Linked DNA regions of Homo sapiens. The gene in region 2 interacts genetically with the main gene of each other region. Each region holds a gene or a part of one and is shown on either strand. Other genes may lie near its edges.

Region 1 (8,525 bases), on a different chromosome or scaffold from region 2:
ATATTGCATGAGGTCAGACCAGCTTCCTCTAATCACTCTTCCCATGACTTGATCTCTTTGGATTATCTCCTCAAAGTTTTTTGGTTCCTGTATTTAAAATTAAAAGTCAGCTGGGGTCGAGAGTAGGGGCTCACACCTGTAATCCCAGCACTTTGGGAAGCCAAGGCAGGCAGATCACCTGAAGGTCAGGAGTTCGAGACCAGCCTGGCCAACATGGCGAAACCCTGTCTCTCCTAAAAATACAAAAATTAGCCAGGTATCATGGTGGGTGCCTATAATCCCAGCTACTTCAGAGGCTGAGGCAGGAGAATCACTTGAACCTGGGAGGCGGAAGTTGCAGTGAGCTGAATCATGCCACTGAACTCCAGCCTGGTTAACAGAGCATGACTCCGTCTCAAAAAAAAAAAAAAAAGTCAGGTGTGGTGGCTCACACCTGTAAACCCAACACTTCGGGAGGCCAAGGTGGGCAGATCACTTGAGCCCAGGAGTTTGAGACCAGCCTGGGCAACATGGCAAAACCCTGTCTCTACAAAAAATGCAAAAATTAGCCAGTCATGGTGTGTGCCTGTAGTCCCAGCGACTCAGGAGCTGAGGTGGGAGGATCACCCGAGCCCAGGAAATCAAGGCTGCAGTGAGCCGTTGATCGCCACTGCACTCCAGCCTGGGTAGCAGAGCGAGACCCTGTCTCAACAATAACAATGACAAAAATTCTTCACTTACCCTGTAATCATCAAGAGGATGGTTAGAAGCTTCTGCTTCCCACCTGTTTTTCTCATGTTTTCCACTATTGTTGACTGAGTACATTTGCCTGGATGCTGAAAATTGTTAGGCAGCTGAATTCTTTGGCATAGTTTTTATCTGTAGCCTGCACCGGGCTCCAGGCAACTTCATACTGTAGGGCAGGGCTCAGCATATATGGTGGCCTTTTCTTGTGATCACAGCCACAACCATTTGTTTACATATTGTTTTTCGTTGCTTTCTCACTACAACAGCAGAGTTGGTTAGACAGGATGACTTGCAAACCTAAAATAATACTCTCCGGCCCTTTAGGAAAATGGTTTTTGGTCTCTGATCTGGAAAAAGGAACCTATGTGAGGGAGCCAGAATTCGAACAAAAAAAAAGGAGGTGGGGTGTCAAATTTATCTAAATTGTTTTTGCCTGTGCCCGCCTAGTTGTTTACTGGCTCATTGAGTATGGGACAAAAGTATTTTTGGTTGGCTCATATTGTGAACTTGGGAAGAAGATAGTCCTGTGAATATTGGCAACCCATAGTGCTTAAAATTTAGGCAATGGGATTGTAAATGACAGTATTTTTTGTTTTAATTTATAAATGCAGTTTAAAATTGTTCATCAGCTAATAAAGTACTGATGGGAGCTGTGACATTCTCATTTGGTTCCATGGTAGTATTTAACATTTAGGATTTCATTTAAGCTTTAAGGTGAAACTTCTGAGTACTGAAAATGTAAATATATTTTAAGTAACATAACACATTTTTAGCAGTTATATAAACTTCCTAGGGTCATCAGCAGAGGACTGTTGTGAAATACTAGCTTTTAGACTTTGTACCTGTTTTACAGGCGATATGAAAGGTGAGGTCTATCCATTTGGCATCGTTGGGATGGCCAACAAAGGGGATTGCCTGCAGAAAGGGGAGAGCGTCAAGTTCCAATTGTGTGTCCTGGGCCAAAATGCACAAACTATGGCTTACAACATCACACCCCTGCGCAGGGCCACAGTGGAATGTGTGAAAGATCAGGTAAGTGCCAGCATCTCTGTATCTGAATTTGATCCTTCTATGAGTTGGTAACCAAAACCTTCAAATATTTTCAGCCAAGGGGAAATCATCAACATTCATTCGTTTTTTTATTTCTACTTCACCTTTTTTCAGTCATTTGAGGTAGCTTAATAAAAACAGAAAACTACACAAAAAGTGACTATATTAGCAATGAGAAAGTAAGATTGGTATTAGTAACTAATATTATGCAATGGGGAAAATAAGTTAGGGGTGAGATTTCCAGAATAGAAGGACTATATGGTTTTGTACACTTTTGCTTAGAGCTTCTTTTGCATATCACACAAACACAGAAACCACGTTCAAAAGTACTTAAAAAATAAGCTTAGGGCAAACAAACTTAGTCTTACTCCTGAGATCTCAGGGAAATCTGAGTCCTCAGAATGTTTTTCATCAGTACAGAGAATAATAACATTTTGTATGGCTGCTACTATAACCCAGCTTAATTCTAGAGGGGATCCAAACAATATATATGTTGAAGTAACAGCTTCCTGATGAGTTTGCTTAATTCAAAAAGCTTAGTTCATAATATACGAAGGAACAAGGCAAGTTTTATTTGTTTGGTTCAAGTTTGTGATATAGTGAATGGCACTTTCAGAGATACATTTCTTCCCTGACAGGTTTTGCCACAGGCAGCTGGACTGGAGTATCAACATTAATACCATGTTTTATACATCCTTTTAGATAGGGGCAGGCATTGTGCTTCATTCAGAGTGAGGTGTGGCATGCCCTCTCTTTTTTACCTACTTTTTTTTTTCAGTTTGGCTTCATTAACTATGAAGTAGGAGATAGCAAGAAGCTCTTTTTCCATGTGAAAGAAGTTCAGGATGGCATTGAGCTACAGGCAGGAGATGAGGTGGAGTTCTCAGTGATTCTTAATCAGCGCACTGGCAAGTGCAGCGCCTGTAATGTTTGGCGAGTCTGGTGAGTTTTGTTGTTGTGGTTTGATTAGTAACTACCCTGGAGTGTCTCAACTTTATAGTCTCTGTTTTGTCACATCACTTTTCTGTGCCTTGTCTTCTGCCACTTATTATTTCTTGATACTTCCTACTTCTAGTTGAATACAAAAAGATTGTTTAGTACATGTTTTTTAAAATTTTTGCCAAATTCTTCTTCTTCCATTAAGTCATTTCTAGGTTATATGCTACTTAAAATTCTAATAGTTTAGCCATGCTGATTCATAATGCCGCTTTGCTTCCCCAGAGACAGTCTCACAGTCTGATTCGGTTACCCAGGCGCTATCACGACTCACTGCAGACTCAACCCCCTGGGCCTAAGCAATTCTCCCACGTCAGCTTCCCCAGTAGCTGGGACTACAAGCATGCGCCACCACATGCAGCCAATTTTATTTTTTGTAGAGACATGGTCCCACTGTTTTGCCCAGGCTGATCTCGAACTTCTGGGCTCAAGTGTTCCTCCTGCCCTGTCCTCTCAAAGCGCTGGGATTACAGGTGTTAGCTACCACATCTGCTACCTTGTTTTTTTATGCATCTGTGGAACTGGTCACTCTTGATTGCATTCAAGTCTAGGGTCTGCAAATGATTCCTTCCATTCCTATTAAGTTGGGACCTTGAGTTGGGGATAATAATACATAAACAAACTTGTCTGTCCTGTCTTTCTAGCTAGGTATATGAGGCAAGAGTCCCATCATAAAAAGTGAGTCATTTGGGCAGTTAGGTGGAAAACACACTCCTTTGCAAGTGCTTGCTGTCTGCCCACCAAGTGTGGTTTCTTCTCATCTTTTGACTTAATTACAGTGAGGGCCCCAAGGCTGTTGCAGCTCCTCGACCTGATCGGTTGGTCAATCGCTTGAAGAATATCACTCTGGATGATGCCAGTGCTCCTCGCCTAATGGTTCTTCGTCAGCCAAGGGGACCAGATAACTCAATGGTATGAGGGCATACAAGGCTTGGGGGAGGCCAACTGATAGACCAACATAAAATATGTGGTCCTATTTAAACAATAGGTCAGGAAACTTAATGAAGCAGGGAGACTTCCATATTGCTTATAACTAGTTAGGACTTTCTACACATTGGTTCAGCCCCCTAACCTAATGGTTGCTTACAGTAAGAAGCACATTTCTTTTCTTGATGCTTTGAAGACAGTTTAGGTAATGAATGGGTCAGGAGTGCTTACTGTGGATTTTCTCCTCTAGGAAAGAATTAGTACTGCATAAGATGATTAAAAATAATGCTTTTGTAGTTTCATTTCGGAATAGTGAATGTACTATGATTGTTGTGCGCTCAAATCATTAACTGCAGGGTTTTTTTTTTCTCCCCCCCACAGGGGTTTGGTGCAGAAAGAAAGATCCGTCAAGCTGGTGTCATTGACTAACCACATCCACAAAGCACACCATTAATCCACTATGATCAAGTTGGGGGGAATCTGGTGAAGGGTTCTGAATATCTCCCTCTTCATCCCTCCCGAAATCTGGAATACTTATTCTATTGAGCTATTACACCAGTTTTAACACCTTCCTCGTGTTATGTTTAAAAAAATAAATAAATTTAAGAAAACCATTTTAAATAATGCACAGTTGCAGCCTGGAAAAACTTAAGGTGGCGCCTTATAGTATCAATTTTAGGAGCTTTATTTGGTGCATTTAACGCAACTGGTAATTGCAGAATCCACTTTGCCTGTGTAAGTGAAAAATATAGACTGTTATCTTGTTGGCCCTATGAAATTCTGCACTTTTCATTATATACTCTACCTTCATTAATTACTTCTGGCAAGATGTTCTGCCTTAGCACTCAGTTGCATTCTTTTCCTTTTTCTTCCTGTTCATTATGCTTTAATTCTGAGGACCATATGAGGGTAGAATATATTATCTTTTAAAAATTACAAAAATTTGTATAGGCAAACCATTTCTTAAAGTTGATGGCCAAATTTTAAAATGTTATTTTTCATATCATTTATAATCTTGTCACAATCCACTTAAAGAAGTTTGGTTATATTTCAGTGAAAATTTTCTTCCAGAGTAGGTTTTTTTTCGTGGGTTGGGGGGTAACTTTACTACAATTAGTAAGTATGGTGCAGAATTTCATGCAAATGAGGAGTGCCAGCAGTGTGATAATTTAAACATATTTAAACAAAAACAAAAAAAATGAATGCACAAACTTGCTGCTGCTTAGATCACTGCAGCTTCTAGGACCCGGTTTCTTTTACTGATTTAAAAACAAAACAAAAAAAAATAAAAAAGTTGTGCCTGAAATGAATCTTGTTTTTTTTTATAAGTAGCCGCCTGGTTACTGTGTCCTGTAAAATACAGACACTTGACCCTTGGTGTAGCTTCTGTTCAACTTTATATCACGGGAATGGATGGGTCTGATTTCTTGGCCCTCTTCTTGAATTGGCCATATACAGGGTCCCTGGCCAGTGGACTGAAGGCTTTGTCTAAGATGACAAGGGTCAGCTCAGGGGATGTGGGGGAGGGCGGTTTTATCTTCCCCCTTGTCGTTTGAGGTTTTGATCTCTGGGTAAAGAGGCCGTTTATCTTTGTAAACACGAAACATTTTTGCTTTCTCCAGTTTTCTGTTAATGGCGAAAGAATGGAAGCGAATAAAGTTTTACTGATTTTTGAGACACTAGCACCTAGCGCTTTCATTATTGAAACGTCCCGTGTGGGAGGGGCGGGTCTGGGTGCGGCCTGCCGCATGACTCGTGGTTCGGAGGCCCACGTGGCCGGGGCGGGGACTCAGGCGCCTGGGGCGCCGACTGATTACGTAGCGGGCGGGGCCGGAAGTGCCGCTCCTTGGTGGGGGCTGTTCATGGCGGTTCCGGGGTCTCCAACATTTTTCCCGGCTGTGGTCCTAAATCTGTCCAAAGCAGAGGCAGTGGAGCTTGAGGTAAGTTTATCTCATGCATAGTGTTCGGCTTTGGGCTGTGGAATGTTCAGGCGTTTCACTGATGCCAGAAATGGAGCAGAATCTATCAGCTGGAGACAAAGGCCTTGGGCGGGGGTCCTTCCATTTGGTGCCTACGTGGGGAGATCTTTGGAGACAGAAGGGAGAATGGGAAGGAGTTGCGGCCTGGAGGCTTCCTGCTAGAGCTGAGAAGCCTTCGGGGAGTAATAGGAAGGGGGATTTCCATTGCTTAGGCTGAGGGCGGGGCCCAAGGACTGTTGAAAAATAGCTAAGGATGGGGGTTGCTAGAAAACTACTCCAGAAGTGTGAGGCCGATATTAATCCGGTGTTTTTGCGTTCTCTAGTCACTTTAAGAACCAAATGGAAGGTCACACTAGGGTTTTCATTTCCATTGATTATAGAAAGCTTTAAAGTACTGTAGATGTGGCTCGCCAATTAACCCTGATTACTGGTTTCCAACAGGTTCTTGCTGGTGTGAAATGACTGAGTACAAACTGGTGGTGGTTGGAGCAGGTGGTGTTGGGAAAAGCGCACTGACAATCCAGCTAATCCAGAACCACTTTGTAGATGAATATGATCCCACCATAGAGGTGAGGCCCAGTGGTAGCCCGCTGACCTGATCCTGTCTCTCACTTGTCGGATCATCTTTACCCATATTCTGTATTAAAGGAATAAGAGGAGAGAAAGTAAAAAGTTATTTTGGGTATACATTCAGTTATGCAATAAGCTTAACGTGTTTATAGAGAACAGTTCATTTTTATTAGCTGCTGAAGTTTCTAAAACCTGTCCAGTTTTTAACAGTTCTGTAAACTATTGCAAACTCAGTGTTGAGTTCATTCATGAGTTTCTTCATATATAACAGCTCTATTACATGAGAAACACAGGCCATAGTAGCGAGACTGTCTGATTGTATGGGAGATAATAGGATGGAGATAAAGGATTCAGAGATGAGTGTTCTTCAATATTTATTTATTAGCTAGTTGAAGCAGCTGAGACCAGATGATTGGAGTAGCAAGAACTTGAGATTTTTAGTCTTTATGCCTAGGATTTTGGTCCCTGTTTGCAGTTTATTTAGTTGTGTGATATTGAGCAACTGAATCTCTCCCAACCTCATTTTCCTCATGTTTTAAATTACCATAAACTTGTCCTGCCTACCACACAGGGATGTTATGGAAAGTTAAATAATATATTTAAGTTATTTATGAATGGTAAAGCACTATGTAATAGTACTTAGGGATTCTATTGTTATTATGAGAGTTCATGGTACAGATTGTCTTCAGTAAGTGGCACCTAAGGCTCTTTAAATAAAGGGTTTTGCCGGACACGGTGGCTCACGCCTGTAATCCCAGCACTTTGGGAGGCTGAGGCAGGCGGATCACAAGGTCAGGAGTTCAAGACCAGCCTGATCAACATGGTGAAACCCCGTCTCTACTAAAAATACAAAAATTAGCTGGGTGTGGTGGCAGGCACCTGTAATCCCAGCTACTCAGGAGGCTGAGGCAGGAGAATCGCTTGAACCAGAGGCAGAGGGTGCAGTGAGCCGAGATCACACCACAGACCTCCAGCCTGGGCAACAGAGCGAGACTTCGTCTCAAAAAATAAATAAATAGATAAATAAATAAAGGGTTTTGTAATTTTGTTCAGTTTAGAAATGCCTAACTTTAGAGATTATTTTAATCAACACCTGGCCTCCCTACCATCTGGCTACTCGTGTTTAATTGATGAAAACTAACTCTAATGTAGCCACTATAAAAAATTGGTTGCTAACCCTTGGCAAAATCTTTATTTTGAGCTTAACAGCTTTAATATTTTACATGAAATGTTTAATATTTTAATTAAATATTTTTAAATGTTTGATTTATTGAGCAATTTACATAAGTAAAATACATAAATTTTATGTCTACAGCCCAGTGCTTTTTGCGTTTCTATATAGTCATGTAGCTACCACCCAGATAACAGTATAGAGCACTTCCAGTACTCCAGAGAGTTCTCCAAGTGTGATGACATTAAAATACAAGTAAAAGTCCTGTTGCCATAAAACCAAAATGAAAGTATTTTTTATATGATCTATGCATGTTTGTCTTCCTGAGAAATTAAACATAACTATACCTTGTTTGGAACCTTTAAGAATTTGATTCAGGAATATTTCCCAAAGGTACATCTGTCATGATAAAAAAAAAACCTTCTCTGAAACAAAGGTATTTGTATATTTAGTCATAAACACAAATGATGTATATAGGGCCAGGTTATAATTGGTGGAGGTATGTTTAGATTTCTTTAAGTAAAATAAACAGCACAAATAAAACAGTCCAGTTCATAGCTTAGTGAAATACACTGGGTACTTAATCTGTAGCCTCCTGGCTGCAGTAGAGTTGTCATTTGAGTTACTGTGTTTTCTTAATCTTTTCCAGGAACACAGTGACCATATTTCTTTTCTGCAGGCATATAGAATTTGGTGGGTTTTCTTTTATGTAGGGTGATATTGGATACTTTTTGTTTGTGATTATATATTAGCAATTTGAGGGACAAACCAGATAGGCAGAAATGGGCTTGAATAGTTAGATGCTTATTTAACCTTGGCAATAGCATTGCATTCCCTGTGGTTTTTAATAAAAATTGAACTTCCCTCCCTCCCTGCCCCCTTACCCTCCACACCCCCAGGATTCTTACAGAAAACAAGTGGTTATAGATGGTGAAACCTGTTTGTTGGACATACTGGATACAGCTGGACAAGAAGAGTACAGTGCCATGAGAGACCAATACATGAGGACAGGCGAAGGCTTCCTCTGTGTATTTGCCATCAATAATAGCAAGTCATTTGCGGATATTAACCTCTACAGGTACTAGGAGCATTATTTTCTCTGAAAG
Region 2 (7,826 bases):
CGCTGCCTCCCAGTTCCCTTCCCAGGCGTCCATCTTAGTCCCCCGCCCCCAGGCCCCTCGAAGACCCTCCTCCTGCTCCCAGTCGACACCATAAATCCCCGTTCTGCAGCCCCCAGAACCGGCCCCTCCTCAGCTCTCCCTCTCCAGACACCCTTCGCTGCAAACCCCCGGGTCCCTCTGCCTCCGACACCCCCAAAGCCTTCCATCCTCAGATCTCGCCCCCGCTCTTAGTTCACCCGCTCCAGCTCTCCTTCGCTTAGCCTTTGCCCCAGGTCCCATCTCTCTGCCCCATTACCCAGGGGCCCTCCGAATTCCAGCGGGGCCCGGGGGCCCTGAGTGGGGGCCATGGTCTCCGCTCCGCCGGAGAGAGAGGGCGCTCACAATAGTCAGTCAAGGAAACACTGTCCGCCCCATTTCCCAGGAGATGGACTCGGCCGCGCGGAGGATCCGGCCCCGCGGCGCCTGCACCTGCCTGGACACGGAACGCAGACAAGGACCGCTCTCGTCCCAGGGTTTTTAAGTGGAACCGCCCCCTGCCCATGCTGGGCCCAGCACACCAGCCAATCGGCGCTCGGGGGCGGACCCGACGCGGGCGCCTCAGAAGCCTCAGCTTCAAAACCCCGCCCCCGGAAAGGCCCGCCCAGCAAGCGAGAGGAGGAGGCCACACATGTTTATTAGGCCGGTCCTGACACCTGCCTGCGGGGAAGGACCACCGAGACCAGATCCTGGGTGCCATGGGGTGCAGGGACAGACCGGTGCATGGCAGCGGCTGCGCCTAGCCGCGCTCGCAGATGACCTCAACCACACTGGGCTCCATGGGCACAGGGTCTGGGCAGCGCAGGGCAGCAGAGGCCACCACTTCGTCCAGCAGCAAGTGCACGAGTTCTTCGTCGGCCACAAAACGCCACAGGTAGAGCTGCAGAAAGTGGCAGTCCACTTGCACCTGCTGCAGCCCGAAGCGCCCAAAGGTGCGCAGCCGCACACACTCCAGCAGCGTCTTCAGGCTGATCTTGATGATGCCGGTCAGCACCGACACCTGCAGGCAGGGACACAGGGATGCAGCTTGGGGACTGCAGGTGTGTGTGGGGGACACCCAAGTTCCAAGCAGGGGCCCGGGAGACATACGATGGAAGTAGCTGGGATGAGGCAGAAAGTCTCCGGGGCCAGATAAGAAGGGAGGGATACAATATTAGCGCCGTCATCTGGAGGGCAGGGGACAGGTAGGGCCCAGCAATCAGAGGCATCCCTGAGCTTGGAGTGAGGCGGGGCAGGGACCATGGGTGAACAGAAAACCCTGGGGAGGACCCAAGACTACTGTGGGGATAAGGACAAGGGCAAACAGTAATCCCAGGTCAGCACCCAGACTCAGGCTGGGCATACACCAAGACTGGGACAAGGGCTGTGGGATTTGGAGGCAGGGCACTCTGTACTACCTAAAAACAGCCCTAGAGACAGAGACTGGAGGGTCAGGGTCACCCCCAGTTGGTCACAGAGTCCTGGGGCTCCTTGGGCAGGTGTGGGGCTGCTCCAGCCAACCCTCCCCGGGATCCCTGGAAGTCTGAGTCACGTTGGAAGTCGGACCTTGTTGAACTCCACAGGGCTGAACACATCAATACGTTCAGAGAATAGCTTCTGGATATTGCTCAAGAGGTTGGTGTCCATCGGGGCACTGGATTGGGGAAGACAAGGAATCAGAGCCCGCCCTGCACCCTCGCCCTCTTTTGTCCCTTCCCCCTGGGGCTCCCCTGACCAGCCAGACCTGGGGGTATAGCTGGGGGCGTAGCGGCCCTGCTGCCGAGAGCTGCTGTACACGGAGAAAGTCCTCTTGCTGGAGTCGCTGCTCTGGGCCTTGCGAACACCCTCTTCGTACAGGAGCCCCACCTGGTGGTAAAAAGAGGTACTGCAAGGAGGCCCGAGTCAGGGGAAACCACCAGCCCATCGGTGCTGAGGATGCCCTAAGTCAGCTACTCAAGCATCACAAGGATCACAGGGTAATCACCGCGGGGCCCGCTATTTAGTAGGTACATGGTCGCTATTTATAGAACCAGTGGAGTGGGGCAAAGGCAGGATACAAGAGTTGGTCTGAGGTCTAATCTTCAGCACCAGCACCAACCCTGCCCTGACTTCCTGGGTAACCCTGAGCCTCTGCTTCTCCACAGGTAAAATAGGGGCGAAGATGTCATAATCCTGGGCTGAGAAGGAACAAGACCGTGGACATAGGCACTCCCCAGCCCGTTTGGTCTTCATCCTTGGAGACTTGTTCCCCTGGGGTTCCCTCACGGACGCCCTGGCTACAGAACTGGCCCCGTGAGAAGCCCAGATACACATGTCCCCTCCTCCAGGCAGGGACTGCCAGTGATCCTCTGCTGCCCCAGCCCCTCTTGAAGGGACAGTACCCCCAGCCTGCGTCAGGGCTACCCCGGCCAGCCTGGGCAGCACCTGCACGTCGATGGCGGTGGTATCCTCCACCACCCGCTTCATGACGGCCCGCACATTCCGGGGCTCCAGAGTGCTGAGCCAGTCGCGAGTCTCCACGCTCTTGCGCAGCATCTGTGATATGACCAGGCCCTGCACCTTCACGTAGTGGGTCAGCAGCCGCCGCGCCGTTTCCCTGGCCTCTGCACACAGCGTGCTCACGGGCGTCACTGGGAACTGATCCTGAGCCAAGGAGGCAGAGGACAGAGGGAGTGGGTATGGTGGGGGCAGCTCAGGGGCCACTGCCAACCAGGAGCTGGGCACAGATTGGGCAAGGTGGAGGCTGGGGTACACACAGGCAGCTGGTCTGGGGTCTGGCCATGAGGGCACTGTCCAGCCATCTGCATTCCCAGCAACACCATTCCCTGCCCGGCTAGGAGCTAGTGCTTCACCTGCACCAGAAACTGTTCATCAGTGAGAGTGAGGATGTAGGAGATGGTGGCCGTCTCGTAGTCCAGGCAGAGGCGGGAGAGCAGCAGGAGCAGGGCAGGTGGTGTGGCACCCCCCTTCTCCCCAGGGCTGTCGCAGAAGCTCTGAGCCGTCTGGCACATAGAGTGGACGAAGCCCACGATGAGGCCCTCACGGACACCCTGACTGCAGAACTCACCCTGCAAGAGAAGGTGCCCAGGTCCACAGCAGGTCCCCTCTTCCAGGTAAGGCTGTTAATGACCCTCTGCTGGGGCTCTAAGTGCCCCAGCCCCCTCTGCAAGGGACAGCATCATCCTACATTCTAAGTACCCCGGAGCAGCTTCCCTGAGTGGGGGCAGAGAAAGCCAACACTGGGGACCCCACCATGCCCTGCTTCTCAGCCCAGCTGCAGATGCCCTGAGCCTTCCCCACCCCCCAGACCGTGCATAAGAACCTGAAACCACACCCAGAGTGCCTGGTTTCCCCAGTTTCCCAAGCACTGGCATAAAAGGTTTTGGAGGGTCAACCAGCAGGTTGAACAAGGAACACCCAAGAGGAGGCGTACCCGGAAGTAGGGCTTGTTGGAGAAGGACACCTCTTTGGCGGTGAAAAGGTGCACTGCTGCCAGAGAGGCCTTAATGTGGCTCAGGATGGAGCTGGCCACATTGGCCAGCAACTCGGCCAGGCCAGGGCCCTCCTTCCCAGCCACGCGAGGTGCTGCCAGCGCCTGGCGGACGTCTGTCAGGCAGCCCAGGAAGGCCGCCCGGAGACCCTGCAGGTGGTGGCCCAGGCGCTCGCGGGCCACTCGTTCCACGATCTCCGTGGCAGCGTCTGCGAGCCCGGCAGCGGCCAGCAGGGCCCCGGGAGCCCGCAAGCGCCGGTGGAAGCGGTCCAGCGCCCGCACCAGCAGTGAGTTGTCACCACCACCCTGCTCCTGCGCCAGCCGCCGCTCCACCAGCGCAAAATAGCGGCTGCCCAGCTGCCGGGCGAAGGCCGCCAGCTTCTCGGCACCTGCTGGGCCCTGGGCCGCAAACAGCTCCTGGTAGGCCGCCGCCACCTGGCAGAGGCCGCCCACGAAGCCACTGCCTCCATGGTCGGTGAACTCTAACACGTCGGGAGCCGGAGGTGAGGGCCCCAGCTCGGCCTCCAGGTTTCTCAGCTCCTTCTCCAGCCGGCCGCGGGCGTGCGCCAGGAACTCCTCGCACAGCTCCTCCGCAGGCTCGCCCAGGGCCAGCAGCAGCTCCACGCACTCTGCCTGCTCCGGGGCGCCTGAGCCGCCCTCCCTGCACGAGGGAGAGGTAGTGAAGGGCAGGGCCGGGGCTGCCGGTGGATGGGGCAGGAGCAGGAAAGCAAAGCACACACAGGGCAGGGGGACAGCTCCAGGAGGGCCCAGGAGCCGGGCACAGATGGGGCTCGGGGCTGGCGGGAGCGCTGGGGTCAGGGCAGAGGGGCCACACCTAAAGCGCTGCCGCAGCTGCTGGGCCAGGCGGGCCGTGATGACCTGGCAGTCGTCCTGGATGGCGCGGAACGAGGGCAGGTGTTGGTACTGCTGCAGCACGGCCTGCGCGCGGCCCTGGTAGCGCACCGCCTGCCCATAGGCGCCCAGTTCCACGCACTTGGTGAGGCGCGAGGGCAGCTCAAAGAGGAACTGCAGCTTCCGCAGCAGCGCGTGGACCCCTGGGGGACGGAGGGTGACGTTAGCCCCAGAGCCCCAGGAAAGGCCCACTGCAGGCCCTGCCCGGCAGCGCCCACCTGCCAGCTTGGTGATGCGCTCGTGGCGGTCCTGCAGCGTGGCGCTGATGCGAGCGCTGAAGTCGGTGATCACTGCCATGTTGGTGGCCAGCCGGTCCATCTCATCCTCCATCTTCCGGAAATCGTTCTTCATCTTCCGGATGGTGTCTAGGAGGGCAGGGGCGGGGAAAAGGGGAGAGCAGGTGACTGCAGGGCGGGCGCAACCTCAGCTCCTTCTCACCCACCCCTTCACAGACGCCCCAGCTTGCTCCAGGGGCGCATGGATGATTCCAGAGAAAGGACTGCGAGGGCGTGGGTCACAGCGCACATGGGGGCGGGGGAGGGGGTTTATGTTCCCAAAGCAGGCGTTACTCACATACTCCCCGTAACCCCCTAACCCTGGTGCCCAGGAGAGCCGGCCCTCAGAATTAGTCCAGATCCGAAGCAGGCCGCAGGTGCTTAGCCAGCTGCCACCACTGTGCCTCAACTGCTCCATCAGACCACAAGCAGCCAAGGCAGGGACCGCTGGCTCCCAAGCGCATCTGCGTGTCCAGCGCACTGCCTGGATGAGGCAATACATTCTTGTTGACCCTCATCTCCTTTCCAGACCTCCCAAAGCCTTTCACATGCTTTCCGGAACATGGGCTGTCTTCTCTGAAGGGCCCTTTCCCTTTGGTCCTGATAGAATCCTGCCTAGGGAGGCTGTTTTTCCTTTCACACACCAGGTGCCTGGGAGCCTGGTCCCTTCATGCTTCTAAATCATGCCTAGATCTCCTCTCTTCAAAACCCCGGCTTCTAGGAAGACCATGCCATCAAGCCACAACCCTCCTCTTTGCTGTCTCTACTGTCCTCTGACACTCCTCTCAGTTCCCCATCACTGCCTCTTCTCCTCCTCCTGTCACCTCCTTGTGCACATCCACATGGATGAGCCTTCCAATGTTCCTGACTGTTCACTGACGGCCTCAATTCAATTCCACCTATTCTTTTTTTTTTTTTTTGAGACTGAGTCTCGCTCTGTCGCCCAGACTGGAGTGCAGTGGCACGACCTCTGCTCACTGCAAACTCCAATTCCCAGGTTCACACCATTCTCCTGCCTCAGCCTCCCAAGTAGCTGGGACTACAGGTGCCTGCCACCACACCCAGCTAATTTTTTGTATTTTTAGTAGAGATGGAGTTTCACCATGTTAGCCAGGATGGTCTTGATCTCCTGACCTCATGATCCGCCCACCTTGGCCTCCCAAAGTGCTGGGATTACAGGCATGAGCCACCGCACCCGACGAGGTCTGATGGTTTTATAAGGGGCTCTCCCTGCTTCGCTTAACACTTCTCCTTCCTGCTGCCTTGTGAAGAAGATGCCTTGCTTCTCTTTCACCTTCTGCCATGATTGTAAGTTTCCTGAGGCCTCCCCAGCCATGCTGTGAACTGTGAGTCAATTAAACCTCTTTCCTTTATAAGTTACCTAGTCTCGGGCAGTTCTTTACAGCAGTATGAACCTGGATTAATATACCTAGTAATCAATCCATTACCAAGTCATGGAAGGTCTACCTGCAACATTTTCTTTGTAAGCCACTATCATCTCTTGTCCAACAACTGCCAACATTTCCCAACTAATTTCCCTAATTCCATTGAACATACCAACAATGTTCATAAAGAAAGGCGAAGAGGATAAGACAGAAATGTGTATCTGTAACAGGAGATATTTTGGTTTTGTTTTGTTTGAGAAAGAGTCTCACTCTGTCACCCAGGCTGGAGTGCAGTGGCGCGATCTCAGCTCTGGAGGCTCCTGGAGGGTGGCACGCCCGGGGAGGGCATGGAAACTCCATGCTCCTTCTCCTACACCTCGCCCTATGCACCTGCTCATCTGTACCCTTTGTAACATCCTTTGTAATAAACTGGTAAATGTGTTATCCTGAGCTCTGTGAGCCACTCCAGCAAACTGAGCCCAAAGAGGGAGTTATGGAAACCCCTACCTGGAGCCAGTTGGTCAGAAATTCTGGAGGCCTGAGGCCCTGACCTGCAGCTAGTGCCTGAAAGTGGGGAGGCAGATTTGGGACTGAACTAGTGCCTGAAGGGAGGCAGGCTTGGGGACTCAGCCCTCAACTCATGGAATCTGATGCTATCTCTGGGTAAATAGTGTTGGAATTAAATCAGAGGACACCCAGCGGGTGTCTGCTGCTTGGTGTGTGGGGAAGAAACCCAACACATTTGGTCACAGAACTCTTCTGTGGTCATGATTGTGGTGATGTGAGAGCATAGGAAGCACACAGTTTGCATTTTTCCCAAACAATGCCATAAAATATATACAAACCTTTCCATATGGTAGATCACAAAGAAAAAAACCTCATTCTTTTTTTTTTTTTGAGACAGGGTCTCCCTCCGTCGCCCAGGCTGCAGTGCAGTGGCGCGATCTCAGCTCACTGCAACCTCCACCTCCTGGGTTCAAGCGATTCTCCTGCCTCAGCCCCGAGTAGCTGGGATTACAGGCACGTGCCACCATGCCTGGCTAATTTTTGTACTTTTAGTAGAGAGGGTTTCACCATGTTGGCCAGACTGGTCTCTGACCTCAAGTGATCCACCCGCCTCGGCCTCCCAAAGTGCTGGGATTACAGGCGGGAGCCACCGTGCCCAGTCGAAAAAACCTCATTGTTAACCAATTATGAGGTCAGAAAAGGAAATCAAAACTGAAATTGCAGCATGGGTAAAATACCAAGAAAACACTAAATTGGTAAGGGCTTGGTGAATTCTATGGATGAAATGGATAATTTGCTACAAAAATAGGATTTACCAAAATGGATTGCAAAAAACAAGAAAACAGAAACAGAAAAACTAGAGAATGTTGTGAAAGAAAGGTCCTACTCCCCTTTCCCCTCCACACAAAGGCATCTGGCCCAGATGTCCAGGGGTGTTGCGGCGGCTTGAAGGACAGCGCCTTCCAATTCTCTGTGTAAACACTGCCCCAGCAGAGAAACGAGAACAGCTCTCACACAAACTTGATGGAACAAACATAACACTGTTATGAAAACATAACAGAAATACCTCACATATACACATTCATATCTCTTATGAATGGAGATGCAAGGATGAATTAAATAAACAAATGGAGATGCACAAATAAGCAAACAAAATCCAGCAGCATATTAAAATAATAATTGATAAACACAAAAGGGTTTTTGTTTCATGAATGCCAGGATGACTCAAAATTAGAGGATCTC

Evidence for each region.
Region 1: changes in VPS51 (region 2) and NRAS together harm fitness more than expected from each alone (negative genetic interaction), as found in Homo sapiens cells (one study listed by BioGRID).

The regions. Positions count from the first base shown.
Region 1 is NC_000001.11:114,713,772-114,722,296, reverse strand, and holds the start of NRAS (GTPase NRas), read left to right. Parts: upstream 1-5,525; 5' UTR 5,526-5,639; intron 5,640-6,119; 5' UTR 6,120-6,136; coding exon 6,137-6,247; intron 6,248-8,318; coding exon 8,319-8,497; intron 8,498-8,525. Other genes in the region: CSDE1 (cold shock domain-containing protein E1), read left to right, coding at 1,580-1,758, 2,555-2,718, 3,552-3,684, 4,081-4,128. UniProt on the Homo sapiens protein: Ras proteins bind GDP/GTP and possess intrinsic GTPase activity.
Region 2 is NC_000011.10:65,104,537-65,112,362, reverse strand, and holds the end of VPS51 (vacuolar protein sorting-associated protein 51 homolog), read right to left. Parts: intron 4,783-7,826; coding exon 4,636-4,782; intron 4,561-4,635; coding exon 4,341-4,560; exon of another isoform or gene 4,339-4,340; intron 4,167-4,338; coding exon 3,449-4,166; intron 3,084-3,448; coding exon 2,868-3,083; intron 2,659-2,867; coding exon 2,440-2,658; intron 1,882-2,439; coding exon 1,760-1,881; intron 1,670-1,759; coding exon 1,582-1,669; intron 1,037-1,581; coding exon 776-1,036; 3' UTR 501-775; downstream 1-500. Other genes in the region: delta(14)-sterol reductase TM7SF2, read right to left, coding at 296-347. UniProt on the Homo sapiens protein: Acts as a component of the GARP complex that is involved in retrograde transport from early and late endosomes to the trans-Golgi network (TGN).